Linked DNA regions of Homo sapiens. The protein of the gene in region 1 interacts with the protein of each later gene in a biochemical or structural test. Each region holds a gene or a part of one and is shown in the gene's direction. Other genes may lie near its edges.

Region 1 (7,027 bases):
AGTAAAGAATTGCTTCCATCTATTCTTTTACCTCTTGGGCTGGGTTTGTGGATGGGAGCCGCCATTTTAAAATGGCGGGCCACATAGCTCAGTCTCGGCAAGGGCTACTGAGATCAGAACCACAGGTGCCAATTTGTACAAAGGACTCAGTCCTGCTACCACTGCCTGATCCCTCAGACTCACAAGCCTGGAATAGGCTGTGGCCAGACCTGGCTGGCCCATCCCTGAGAAGGGTGCTAGTTTCAGAAATGGAGGCTGAGTTTGTGGCCAACACAGTAGTCCTCCGGTATGTGCAGGAGAGATGTTCTAAGACCCCAGTGGATGCCTGAAACCATGGAGAGTATCAAGCCCTACACATACCATGCTTTTCCCAATACCTACACACCTGCAATAAAGTGTAGTTTATAAATTAGGCACAGTAAGAGAGTAATAGCAACTCATAATAAAATAGAACAATTATAACAATCAATGTACTATAATAACACTATGTGAATGTGGACTCTCTCCATCTCCCTCAAAATATCTTCTTGTACTGTACTCACCCTTCTTCTTGGGAAGATGTGTGGTGGTAAAATGCCTGTGTGATGGGAGGAAGTGAGGTGGATGACGCATGCAGCACTGTGCTCTAGCGCTGGGCTGCTGTTGACCTGACCACACTTCAGGAGGAGAATCATCTGCTCCCAGAGATCCCTAATCTTTGAGCAACAATGAGGTCGGCAGCTGGATGTCAGGAGCAGACGATCTTGATGATTACCAAATGGGAGCGTATAGAGCGTGGATGCGCTGGACGGGGGGCTGATTCACGTCCTGGGTGGGATGGAGCTGGATGGCACGTGATCAGAATAGCATGCAATTTAAAATGTATGAATTGTTTATCTCTAGAATTTTCCATTTAATATTTTTGGACTGCAGTTGATTTCAGATAACTGAAACCATAGAAGGCGAAGCTGCGGATAAGCAGGGGGCAGGGATTACCGTATATCATTGTAATAGAGAGCACAGGCTCTGGAGCCAGACTGCCCGAGGTTTGAACCCTCATTAGCTGCGTGACCTCAGGTCAGCCCAATGTCTGTGTGCCTCCGTTTCCCCTTCTGTAGAATGGAGGTAATAACCCTGGCTACCTCACAGGCTGTAGTGATGAGCAAGCAAGTTAATCCACATGAAGGGCTGCACCGTCTGGCAGGGGCTTTATATAGTAAGCGAGTGGCTGAAAGATGATGGGTAAATCACACAAGCACTCAGCTTGTTTCTCCTTATGTGAGTCCGGTCCTCCAAGCAGGGATTCAATGTGCCACCCATTTATTGGGGAAAAGTCCTAAAAGGGGAAGTGGGGAAGGGAGCTGGGGGAGGCTGGGAGGTGTGTCCCTGAGTGAAGGAGAGAGGGAAGGAAGGAAGGTTGAGACTGGGCACCTTGGACTTCAGTGCAGTCCTAAGACATCTTGGCAAGGCTGATGAGGAGTTCTTGAACCAAATTCACCAGGCAGGGGAGCCTGATGTCTCAGGCAGGGGCTGGCAAGTGCAGATGCGAGGATGTTAGATTTTGGAGCACAGCAGCTGGGGCCCTTGGCTACCTCCAAGGAGCTGAGGCTGGAGACCTGAAAGGCGAGTTCTCCTAGCTGCCACACCCCTTCTCCAAGGATACAATAATATCTGCCTTATAGGATTGTTGTGAGCTGAGTGGCTTGACGTTCCTTGAAAGAATGAAAGCGTATAGTTATCCCAGGAAGCCTAGGGTTGCAGGTGAGAGCTCTGGGGCTTCTCCGAAGCTCTCCGAGGTGTCTGGATTCAGTTGCAGCAGGAGCCTTCCTTGCTGGGATCTTCCCCCACCCCTAGCCTTGGCCCTCCCTCTCTCCTTCCTTTCTGGAAGGCTCAGTGGGCCCCACCCCTCCCTCCAGCCACCTGGACCTGCCCAGCGCTCTTGTGCAACAGGTAAAGCCTACCTGTAGCAACAACAGATCTGGGAAGGCTGCAGAGGGCACGATGGGGTCTGGATCGAGGGCGGCTGAGACCAGAGGGAAAGGTGTGACCCTGAGTCACCCTCGCTGTCCCGGGGAAACCACCTCCCAGGACAGCTGCCTACTGTGGCTCCTGCCTGGAATTGTCACACTGCTGTGCAAACAGCGTCCCGCTGCCCCTTTCCCTTTGCTGGGGGAAAATGAAGTTGTGGGAGCCGCTGAGTAAACTAGACCTAGCAGCGAGGGCACCTGATGTGGCTGCTGCCTCCCGGGCAGGTCTTCAATGCTTTCTTCCTGTGTTTCCCTGGCCAGGGCACAGACGGCCCTCCTTTTCTGCCTGCCGCTGTGTTCTCTCAGCCTCCTCTGTCTTCCCTTCCAGGCTGGGGAATAACTACATCACTGCCGCGGGAGCCCAAGTGCTGGCCGAGGGGCTCCGAGGCAACACCTCCTTGCAGTTCCTGGGGTAGGTTGGATTCCAGGAAGAGGGACCTGCATGGAGGGGCTTGGGACTTTTGAGGATTTAGGGGCAGGTGAAACTCTTCAGCCAGGAGGCCCCAGAGGCAGCCCAGCTCCAGTGGGGAGGACAAGCCAGGGAGAGAGTGGGCGGCCCTTGACTGCCACCTTCATACTTGGTCTATGCCTGACAAACAGGAAGTTTGGGATGTTGGGGCTAGGGGAGGACAGTGCCCACGAGCTGGTGACAGGAAGCCCTCTGATCCTCAGGGGGCGCTAGGGCTGTACTTTAGCTGCATATTAAAACCACCTGGAAGCTTCTAAACACTATTGCCAGGCCTCCCACCCCAGACTGATGAAATGCAAATATCTAGGTGCAAGGCCCAGGTATCAGGAGTTTTAAAAAGCTTCCCAGGGGATGTACAGCCAGGGGTGAGGACCCCTGACCTAAGAAAGAGAAGGAAATGGGGAAGGATAGGAAGGCACCCAGGATAAGAGGGGCTGTGCTAGGTCCCTCGGAGCTCTTGCTCCCTGTAGGACCATGCTAGGGCCTGCCAGGGAGGGGAGTACCCCAACCTGCAGCCCCAGGGTGGGCTTCCTCTGTTTGCTAGGCACCCAGGCTTGCACCTGTGCTGTTTCCAGCAGCCTCTCTCCTATCCTGTCATGCCCTAGTGTGAACTGGAGTCCATTTGACAAGAACTGGGAGTTTTAGAACCTGGGACTGTAGGAAGAGAGAATAACCTTAGGGCCTAGGTGTTCCAGCCCATTTCACAGGGAGGCAAGTTGCCCCCAAGCTCAGTTTTTTGTTTTGTTTTGTTTTGTTTGAGATGTAGTCTCACTCTGTTGCCCAGGCTAGAGTGCAGTGGCACGATCTTGGCTCACTGCAACCTCCGCCTCCTTGGTTCAAGCGATTCACCTGCCTCAGCTTCTCAAGTAGCTGGGATTATAGGCACCCACCACCACGCCCAGCTAATTTTTGTATTTTTAGTAGAGACAGGGTTTCACCATGTTGGCCCGGCTGGTCTTGAACTCCTGATCTCAGATGATCCGCCCGCCTCGGCCTCCCAAAGTGCTGGGATTACAGGTGTGAGCCACCGCACCCGGCCCCCAAGCTCAGTTTGAGCCACAAATGGGACTATGTTGCTCTAGAAATCAACATCTTTTCCACACTGCATTAGTAGCAACAGAGTCTAGAACAAAGGAGGCCACAGCCCCACTGAACTCTCTTCTGCTTGAGGTCACATCTGCCACATCAGGGGTATTTACCTCTTTCAACACATATTTATTAGGGCACCTGTCTGGGCCAGGCGTTGTGCTAAAACCCCCAAACGCTGTCATATGATACAAAGTGTTCTGTAACTTGCTTGGTTTTTTTTTTTGTTTGTTTGTTTGTTTTGTTTTGTTTTTGTTGTTGTTTTTTTTTGCTTCGCCATATATTATAGGAATTTTTTTAGGTCATTATGACCTCTTTATTTACTTAATTATCTATTTATTTATTTTACTAATATTTACAGAAAGGGTCTCACTCTGTCACCCAGGCTGGAGTGCAGTGGTTGCAATCATAGCTCATTGTAGCCTTGAACTCCTGAGCTCAAGTGATCTTCCTACCTCGGCCTCCTGAGTAGCTGGGACTACAGGCACAAGCCACCATGCCTGGCCGATATTTTTATGTTTTGTAGAGACGGGGTCTCACTATGTTGCCCAGGCTGGTCTCAAACTCCTGGGCTCAGGTGATCCTCCCTCCTTTGCCTCCCAAAGTATTGGGATTACACAAGTGAGCCACCTTGCTCAGCCTGACCTCATTTTTCAAAGAGCTGCAGAGTGTTACATAATGTATTTAACTGGTCACTTTTTGATGACTATTAAGTTGTTTTCAGGTTTTTTGTTATTACAGTGTCATATCCCTGGGGCACAGAGCAGTGCTGGCACATAGCCAGAGCTCAATCGATACATACCTAATGAATGAAAGTACAGTGGACATCCTAATTCAGCCATTCTTTGCTAACTTGTGTACATACCTGTCCAGGGTAGGTCCCTAGAATACAGTCAATAAGTCAGAAGGTGTGAGTTGGGATCTACCTTTTGGAAAGGGATGTTTTCAAACTACAGTGAGTCAGAGGAGGATGGCCCAGAAGCTGGGGGAGTTGAAGCTGATGGCGTGAAGGAATTAGGGGTGTTAGGAAGAAGCAGGAGATAAAGAGCTAGCTTGCAGAAGAAGTGTTAGACTTGTTATGGGCAGGTACTGGAGGGTAGCTAAGGACTTGTGGGTGGCAGTTACCAGGAAGCGTATCTGAACTAAGTGTCAGAAAAAGTGTCACAACTGTAAATTACTCTTGTCAGTGAGTTCCTGTCCTTAAGGGTTAGGGCTGGGTAGCCCTCTACTATTCTCTAAGTCTGTAATGTAAAGCCACTGAAAACTCTTGGGTTAAGTTTGGCCATCCCACCCAAAAGATGGAGGCAGGTCCACTTTGCTGGGACCAGGAGCCCCAGTGAGGCCACTCTGGGATTGAGTGGTCCTGCCCCTCTGGCTGGGACTGCAGAGGGAGGAGGACTGTTAGTTCATGTCTAGAACACATATCAGGTACTCACTGACACTGTCTGTTGACTCTTTTGGCCTTTTCAGATTCTGGGGCAACAGAGTGGGTGACGAGGGGGCCCAGGCCCTGGCTGAAGCCTTGGGTGATCACCAGAGCTTGAGGTGGCTCAGGTAAGCTTCAGAGTCTATCCTGCAGTTTTCTTGGGGAGATCAGGTGAAGAGGGAGGAGCTGGGGCCAGTTCTGAAGGTCTTTGAACTTTATTTCTACCCCACAATGTTAGGCAATGGAGTAAGGAAAAAAGACCATTGGATTTCAAGAGAGGACACTCGAGTCTTTCTGGGTGACTTGGAAATGTCCCTTGTCCTCTCAGGGTTTTGATACAGTATCTGTAAATTGAAGATATTGGGCTGGATCAGGTACATTTTATCTTAAGGACCAATTCCAATCCATTGGTAGTGGGTGCCCAGTGCACCACATTAAAAAGAATTCTAAGGCTGCACCTGGGCTTAAAGAAGAGCACTATAATCAATTAGTGATGTCTAAAAAAGCTAAAAAAAAAAAAAAAAGAGCACTGCATTCAATTAGTGATGTCTAAAAAGGGTAGAAAAAAAAAAAAAAAGAAAAAAGAAAGAGCACCGCAATCAATTAGTGATGTCTGAAATGGAGCAGACCAGGAGAGCACCACGAATTTTGCCCTCCATAGGTTAGCTCATCTCTGAGGTCTTTCCCTGCTCTGACATACTTTTGTTCCATGATTACCTCCAGCCTGGTGGGGAACAACATTGGCAGTGTGGGTGCCCAAGCCTTGGCACTGATGCTGGCAAAGAACGTCATGCTAGAAGAACTCTGGTGAGTTTGGGGGATTCTCTGCTCTGGGGAAGTGGATCACAATCTCTGTTGATCCCCTGGCCTCATCCATAGGAGCGGTTGTGTGGACAGACAAAGGTGGATGATTGAGTGATTGACTGATTGATTGATTGTGTTTGTCTTTATATGTACTGAGTGGTATGAAGCTTATAGAGCCTGGTATGTACATGCTAATTTTTTTATTTAATAAAATATATGGGTTTGCTGGTTTGGTGACTGCCTCCACATGGCATAAGTGTTAAGAGCACAGACTCTGTAATCAAGCAGGCCGTGATCTTAGGCAAGTTAAATAACAATTTCAGAATCTCAAGTTTCATGTCTGTAAAATGAGGGTAAGAATACTTCCAACCATAAAGGATTTTTGCAAGAATTAGATAAAGTAGTGCCTGTGAAGACCTTAATATAGTGCCTGGCATATTTGTAAGTGCTCCATAAATGTTAAATTAGAATAATGGCAGGGTTACTACTACTATTACTGCTGCTGCTGCTGCTGCTGCTGCTACAACTACTATAGTACTGTGACTACTACTACTAATAAAGTTTTGTTATTTTAAAGTGATTTTGAGTTCCTAGGAGCACTGGGTATTCAAGTCTTAGGTCATTTTGGAAGGTGTAATGGAGTTTTGATAGTTGAAAGAGGAACCATGAATCATGCTTATACTGTTGACCTGAAGCAGATTCTAAGTTTCTCATCCTTTAGATGCCACTAGTATAGTTTTCTGACATGTTCTGGGCAGCTTCAGATTATGTCAGGGAGATAAAATACTGAATGTTTGATTTTCCCGGGAAGCAGAAAGGCACTGCAACATATGGGCATTGCCATAAACAGATTTTATGGATGGACCTTGGCTGTTGCAGGGCTTACTAGCTCTACTCAAGTATGATTGATTCTATCCTGACTGGATTTTGCCACTTGGAATTTCTTAGTAGAGGAGAACCTTGTTATGAGAGCATCAGTTATGATTACTGTTAAAAGAAAAACTTTAGGCAAATTAAATTTAGCAGAACTGGTTTGAACATACAGCAATTTATGAATTGGGCAGCATTCAGAACTGGGAGTGCTCCACCCAGCAAGGTAGGCAAGCAGTATCTATAGACAGGAAAAGGAAGTGATGTACAAAACAGCTTGATTGGTTGCAGCTGGGCATTTGCCTTATATGGGCATGGTGTGATGAGGCATTTTCTTTATATGGATATAGACTGATCAGCTGGTAG
Region 2 (6,824 bases), on another chromosome or scaffold:
CAATTCTCCTGCCTCGGCCTCCTGAGTAGCTAGGACTACAGGCACGCACCACCATGCCCAGCTAATTTTTTGTATTTTTAGTAGAGACAGGGTTTCACCATGTTGGCCAGGATGGTCTCAATCTCTTGGGCTCATGACCCGCCCGCCTCAGCCTCCCAAAGTGCTGCGATTACAGGCATGAGCCACCGCACCTGGCCGAGTTTATTTTTGTGTAAGATGAGAGCTGAGGATCCAGTTTCATTATTCTACATGAATTATCACATTGATTTTTCCCGCAGCCTTTTCTGATAATGATCAAACAGAGGAAAAGCCTGGGATTTGATCCACATTGTTTTCCGGGCACATGGAGTTCTCTGATGCACCAGCCTCCACATCTGTGCTAAGGCCAGGTCTTACTTTGCTATAAGTACCTTTGTTTGGGGATCAAGATAATTGGCATGGAATTAACTATATATAACCTCACATGGGAAATCTATTAATCTGTGTTCTTCATTCTGCATGTTTTACTCATGAAATTAATTCATTGGATTATGACCAGCATTAAAAAACAAACAGATGAAAAACATTCATAGAATGGAATAGGAGTTATAGGGTGTATTTAAGGCAAATTGTTCTGTAATACCTCACATTCACCTGTGTGCAGGTATTTGTGTGCATGTGTACTTGGTTCCTATATGCTCACTTAGTAAATTTAGGAATATGCTCCTTCTAGGATCTGGTTCTTTTTTTTTTTGTATGGCTGCCACTCTGTAATTGAACCTGGTTCCACGACTCCCTTTAGAAGGGCCTCCTCCTCCTCTTCCAAAAGGACTCCTCTGCCCCTGTCTGGAGGAAGGTATCTGGCAATATATCTGGGCAAGATATTCAAAGAGCTGAGCTTGGAGCAATTGTAACCCAGGCTGAATTCTGATGACCTCTTCTAAACTTCCAGGTCAGTGCTCCTGGAGGCTCACCCACACAAACACATAGGCACACTAACAACACCTGGAAGACACACCAACCTCATGCAGAGGAAACCATACCCTCACTGGCCTGGCAGTGACACAGGGGCCTGGGCAGGCATAGCACAGAAGAGTCCTGGTGTAACTGAGATAAAGTATCTCAATTGTACAAATAATTATTTTCGGCTCGGTTGTCTCTAGCGTGCAGCTGGTGAGCCTTCACCATGGGCCCAGGAGAAGCGGATCATATGAACAAGGCCTGGGGATGGGACAGTTGAGCTGGGGCTGCAGGGGCTAAGGCTGTTTCCCATGGGGCTCAGCACTGGTGGACAGGTAAGCAGACAGGTTTGAAGATGCTGGCTCAGTTCACAGACATGGTCACAGAAAAAGCCTGGAAAACTATAGGGTTTTCTGCTGACCTCCCACACTCACCATGGACAGTCAGTACCCTGCACTGGCCCGTGTCGTACCCAAGCAGAGTGTGCTTGAAAATTGGATGTATATTAGTAGACCCCGTGCTCAGCGGGTACAGTTTAGAAAGGGAAGTTAACTTATCTGTCAATTAGTAAGTTAACAACACACAAAGTGTACTATGTTTTATTAATCAAACAAAAATATGTTTAACACCTGCTGGGCACAAGGAGTACAATGGTAAAGAGTTTAATGGAAATGTTTAATGGTTAATGCCAAGACCTGTGTATGTATTAATATGATGCCAATCATTTAATACCTGATGAAGCAATAGTTTCTGGGACTACTTGGGTTAGAAAATGGGCCTGCCACAGGCCCAAGCCCATCCCCTACCCTGCATGTGCTCCTGCTCCACTCCCTTGTGCATCTATCCGGTATAATGTTGTGGGGAAGGGGAGTGCTCGATTCCTCACCTTAACCAGCCTGCCAGCTATCCATGCAGAGACATGTGGGCAAAACTCCTAAGGCCAGACCTCCCCACTCCATTCTCCTGCTAGGCTGCTGAGGGACTCCATTCGAACCTGGTAATTACCCTGCCTCCTTCCCTCCAGATTCCATAGGTTACCTCTTCCTCTTTGCAGACTAACTAAAAGCCACCATATCTAAGTAGCATTTGATGAGAAGAAACTAGTTATTTATGTAAACCAAAATAATTAATGTTACAACGGAGAAACTTTATATAGCAGCCACAGATGAAGCCTGGCATGAGGAAGTCAATGATCAGTTGCTGCTCTCGCCATATGGTGGGTTATAAAATCTTCCCAAGACAAGTGAGGCACCGAGAAATTGAAGACTCATATACATTCCAGAGAACAGGGCCTCTCTCATCCATCTCCTCCATTAGGGCCTTTCTTCATATTTCATAGATAGACAGCTGGAGCCAGTTCTCTGCTTCCTGGGCCCTCTAAAAGGGCCAAAGACTTGGACAAATCCATTGTCCTGGGCACTCAGGAGGCAAGATTCTGTGTGTGCATGAGTGTACGAACATGTGTCATGTGAGAGAGTGTGTGGGCACTGGGCACACGAAGCATGAGGGTAGGTGAGTGAACATGTGTCAGCCTACATGAGTGTATATATATGTGCACAGAGTGTGTGAGCATGTGTGCATCAAACATAAGTTTGTGTGAACGTGGCACCACGAGTGAATTTGTGTGTTTGTGTGTGGGGTAAGTGAACATGTTGCAGCCTGAGTGAGCAAGTGTAGTGTGTGCAACAGGGATGTATGTATTCATGTTTACACATGTCAGCTTAAGTATGTTAGGGTGTGTGAACGTGTGTCAGTGTGAGTATGTGTGGGCCTGTGCACAGAATGCAAGTAAGTGTATGTGTGCATGCCGAGGGTGAGTGAGAGTGTGTGTGTGGGGGGGTAAGTAAACATGGCTGGGCATGGGTGAGTGTGCACACCAGGTATGAGTGGCTGTGTGCAGTGTTGTGTGTGTTCACAATGAGTGTGTGAAACAGACCTGCCAGGCCATGCTAGTGAGAGGTGACAGCATGCTGGCAGCCCTCGCAGCCCTCGCTGGCTCTCGGAGCCTCCTCAGCCTTGGCGCCCACTCTAGTGGCACTTGAGGAGCCCTTCAGCCCGCCGCTGCACTGTGGGAGCCCCTTTCTGGGCTGGCCAAGGCCGGAGCTGGCTCCCTCAGCTTGTGGGGAGGTGTGGAGGGAGAGGCACGGGCAGCAACTGGGGCTGCGGGCGTCGCTTGCGGGCCAGCACGAGTTCCGGGTGGGCGTGGGCTCAGCGGGCCCGCGCTCAGAGCAGCCATCCGGCCCCGATGGCCCCTGGCAGTGAGGGGCTTAGCACCTGGGCCAGCAGCTGCTGTGCTGGATTTCTCCCCGGCCTTAGCTGCCTCCCCGCAGGGCAGGGCTTGGGACCTGCAGCCCGCCATGCCTGAGCCTCTCTCCCCTGCCCCACTCCGTGGGCTCCTGCACAGCCCGAGCCTCCCCTATGAGCGCCGCTCCCTGCTCCACGGCGCCCAGTCCCATCCACTGCCCAAGGGCTGAAGAGTGCAGGCGCATGGCCGGGGACTGCCAGGCAGCTTCACCTGCGGCCTGGTGCAGGATCCACTGGGTGAAGCCAGCTGGGCTCCTGAGTCTGGTGGGGACTTGGACAACATTTATGTCTAGCTAAGGGATTGTAAATACACCAATCAGCACTCTGTATCTAGCTCAAGGTTTGTAAACACACCAATCAGCACCCTGTGTCTAGCTCAGGGTTTGCGAACACACCAATCGACCCTCTGTATCTAGCTAATCTAGTGGGGACATGGAGAACTTTTGTGTCTAGCTCAGGAATTGTAAATGCACCAATCAGCACCCTGTGTCTAGCTCAGGGTTTGTGGATGCACCAATCAGCACTCTGAGCCTAGCTAATCTGGTGGGGACTTGGAGAATCTTTATGTCTAGCTAAGGGATTGTGAATGCACCAATTGGCACTCTATATCTAGCTCAAGGTTTGTAAACACACCAATCAGCACCCTGTGTCTAGCTCAAGGTTTGCAAATGCACCAATCTATACTCTGTATCTAGCTAATCTAGTGGGGAGGTGGAGAACTTTTGTGTCTAGCTCAGGGATTGTAAACACACCAATCAGCACCCTGTCAAAATGGACCAATCAGCTCTCTGTAAAACAGACCAATCGGCTCTCTGTAAAATGGACCAATCAGCAGGATGTGGGTGGGCCAGATAAGAGAATAAAAGCAGGCTGCCCGAACCAGCAGTGGTAACCTGCTCAGGTCCCCTTCCATGCTGTGGAAGCTTTGTTTTTTTGCACTTTGCAGTAAATCTTGCTGCTGCTCATTCTTTGGGTCCACACTGCCTTTATGAGCTGTAACACTCACCGTGAAGGTCTGCAGCATCACTCCTGAAACCTGTGAAACAACGAACCCCCCGGGGAGAAACGAACAACTCCAGACTCGCCGCCTGAAGAGCTGTAACTCTCACTTCGAAGGTCTGCAGCTTCGCTCCTGAGTCAGTGAAACCACGAACCCACCGGAAGGAAGAAACTCTGAACACATCCAAACATCAGAAGGAACAAACTCCGGACACGCAGCCTTTAAGAATTGTAACACTCACCGCGAGGGTCCGTGGCTTCATTCTTGAAGTCAGTGAGACGAAGAACCCACCAATTCCGGTAGGAGTAGGAAATCACATCACCTTCTTTTAATCAGTCTCAAATACCTGGCCCCTTGTGGAACCTGCAAGAGCCAGGTTTGGCGAATGCAATGATAAGCAATTGTCTAATCACTGCCTTGAAAAAGAGCAGAGCATTTGAGTATGCTGTCTCCTCCTCTCCCTCACTTCAGTTGGGCCCAACATGACAGTCTTAATGGAAGCTCGGGGGTCAAAGGCTGGTGGCTTACTTCACGTATATTGCAGCATTTCAGTACTGCTCTGCACGTGTGCTCCCCCGCCTGATGAGGTAAGTGTTAAACAGGGATGATCACAGCTTCAAGTAAGCAATGGGAATTGGATGTTTTATGTCCTCTGGCGCCATCTTCAGCAGAGAAATATATAGGTCACTTTTACTTGTCTGGTTTTGGTCTTGAAATATGTACTGAAACTTGTGAAGGAGCAGACCTATATTAGGATAGAGTAAAAGAGGGAAAGACAAAAACCTCTTGGGCTTTTCAGGAGACTTGGTTCATTCTCTGCTTTTCAAGCCATCTCATGGCCACATGCCTGCTTTGGAGGCTGACTCGGAGGCACAACCGGCCTCAGGGCGTTCCTCAGGGACCCTACCTTTCTTGCTCCCTGAAGAAATGTGCACATTGCTTGAATAAAAACAATCAAAGAACACTCAGTCAAGATCGTCTGCTGCAGTCTTCGTTGAGGGCTGGGGATGCTAAAAGTCAGATGATTCATGTGTACCCTGTCCATCCTAACTCACCTGCTCTTCTACTTCCGCAGCTTACTCCAGTGCCCACAGATACGACAGAGTGTCCCAAGTGCCCCTCACACTCTATTAGCTGCATCCTTAACCTCTTTTTGCCACACCATAAGCATTGGGTTTTGTTTGTTTTGAGATGGAGTCTTGCTCTGTTGCCAGGCTGGAGTGCAATGGCGTGATCTCAGCTCACTGCAATATCTGCGTCCAGGGTTCAAGCGATTCCCCTGCCTCAGCCTCCTGTATTAGCTGGGACTACAGGCGCACACCACCACGCGCAGCTAATTTTTTTGTATTTTAGTAGAGAAGGTTTCACGATGTTGGCCAGGATGGTCTCAATCTCCTGACCTCGTGATCTGCTCGCCTCGGCCTTCCAAAGTGCTGGGATTACAGGCATGAGCCACGGCGCCTGGCCAGCATTGGGGTATTTTATTGAAGATGGAAGCCATGAATGTTGAGAAAGCCTCAGCAGATGGGAACTTGCCAGAGGTGATCTCTAACATCAAGGAGACTCTGAAGATAGTGTCCAGGACACCAGTTAACATCACTATGGCAGGGGACTCTGGCAATGGGATGTCCACCTTCATCAGTGCCCTTCGAAACACAGGACATGAGGGTAAGGCCTCACCTCCTACTGAGCTGGTAAAAGCTACCCAAAGATGTGCCTCCTATTTCTCTTCCCACTTTTCAAATGTGGTGTTGTGGGACCTGCCTGGCACAGGGTCTGCCACCACAACCCTGGAGAACTACCTGATGGAAATGCAGTTCAACCGGTATGACTTCATCATGGTTGCATCTGCACAATTCAGCATGAATCATGTGATGCTTGCCAAAACCGCTGAGGACATGGGAAAGAAGTTCTACATTGTCTGGACCAAGCTAGACATGGACCTCAGCACAGGTGCCCTCCCAGAAGTGCAGCTACTGCAGATCAGAGAAAATGTCCTGGAAAATCTCCAGAAGGAGCGGGTATGTGAATACTAATTCCTGTCTTCATTAAACATTTTCCATCTCCTCCTATTGATTCCTTTTCTCCTTTATTTCACTGGACTCATTGAAACACACCTGGTGCAGAAGGGTATCTTACAATTTTCGGGGGCATGTAGAGAGTGTGGTTGTGTTGTTCTTTGAGATCTTTTGAGTGTTGGGGCCAAGATTCCCAGGCAAGGCTGCTTGCTTCGAAGGTCCTTTCCCTTCACGGAACTCTCCACCAGGTGCTAAAAATGATCAGTGTCTTAAAATGGATGCAAGATTATATCATCAGGGTCCTAGCACTCTCAAACTGAGTCATAATGAGGGTATTTTCAAAGGTGTGGACAGGGTGCAGGGAGACCACCAAGACAAAATGTTAACCCCACGGTATAACCTCAAGGCAAGTAATGGTCGGGAGGAGCCCTCTCCAGGTTCGAACAGGCAAGTAGAGAGGCAGGTTGCTTGAATCTCAAGATGGAGTTTATCAGTAATAATAAAGACTTCTGGGCTTAAAAACACACAACTGAGATCTACAACAAAACCTCTAAAACAGAAAA

Evidence for each region.
Region 2: the proteins of NOD2 (region 1) and IRGM form a complex in vitro, tested with the Homo sapiens proteins (2 studies listed by BioGRID).

Annotation. Positions count from the first base shown.
Region 1 is NC_000016.10:50,717,591-50,724,617, forward strand, and holds part of NOD2 (nucleotide-binding oligomerization domain-containing protein 2), read left to right. Parts: intron 1-2,334; coding exon 2,335-2,418; intron 2,419-5,031; coding exon 5,032-5,115; intron 5,116-5,710; coding exon 5,711-5,794; intron 5,795-7,027. UniProt on the Homo sapiens protein: Pattern recognition receptor (PRR) that detects bacterial peptidoglycan fragments and other danger signals and plays an important role in gastrointestinal immunity.
Region 2 is NC_000005.10:150,842,391-150,849,214, forward strand, and holds IRGM (immunity-related GTPase family M protein), read left to right. Parts: upstream 1-4,130; 5' UTR 4,131-4,830; intron 4,831-5,318; 5' UTR 5,319-5,733; coding exon 5,734-6,279; 3' UTR 6,280-6,312; downstream 6,313-6,824. UniProt on the Homo sapiens protein: Immunity-related GTPase that plays important roles in innate immunity and inflammatory response. Acts as a dynamin-like protein that binds to intracellular membranes and promotes remodeling and trafficking of those membranes.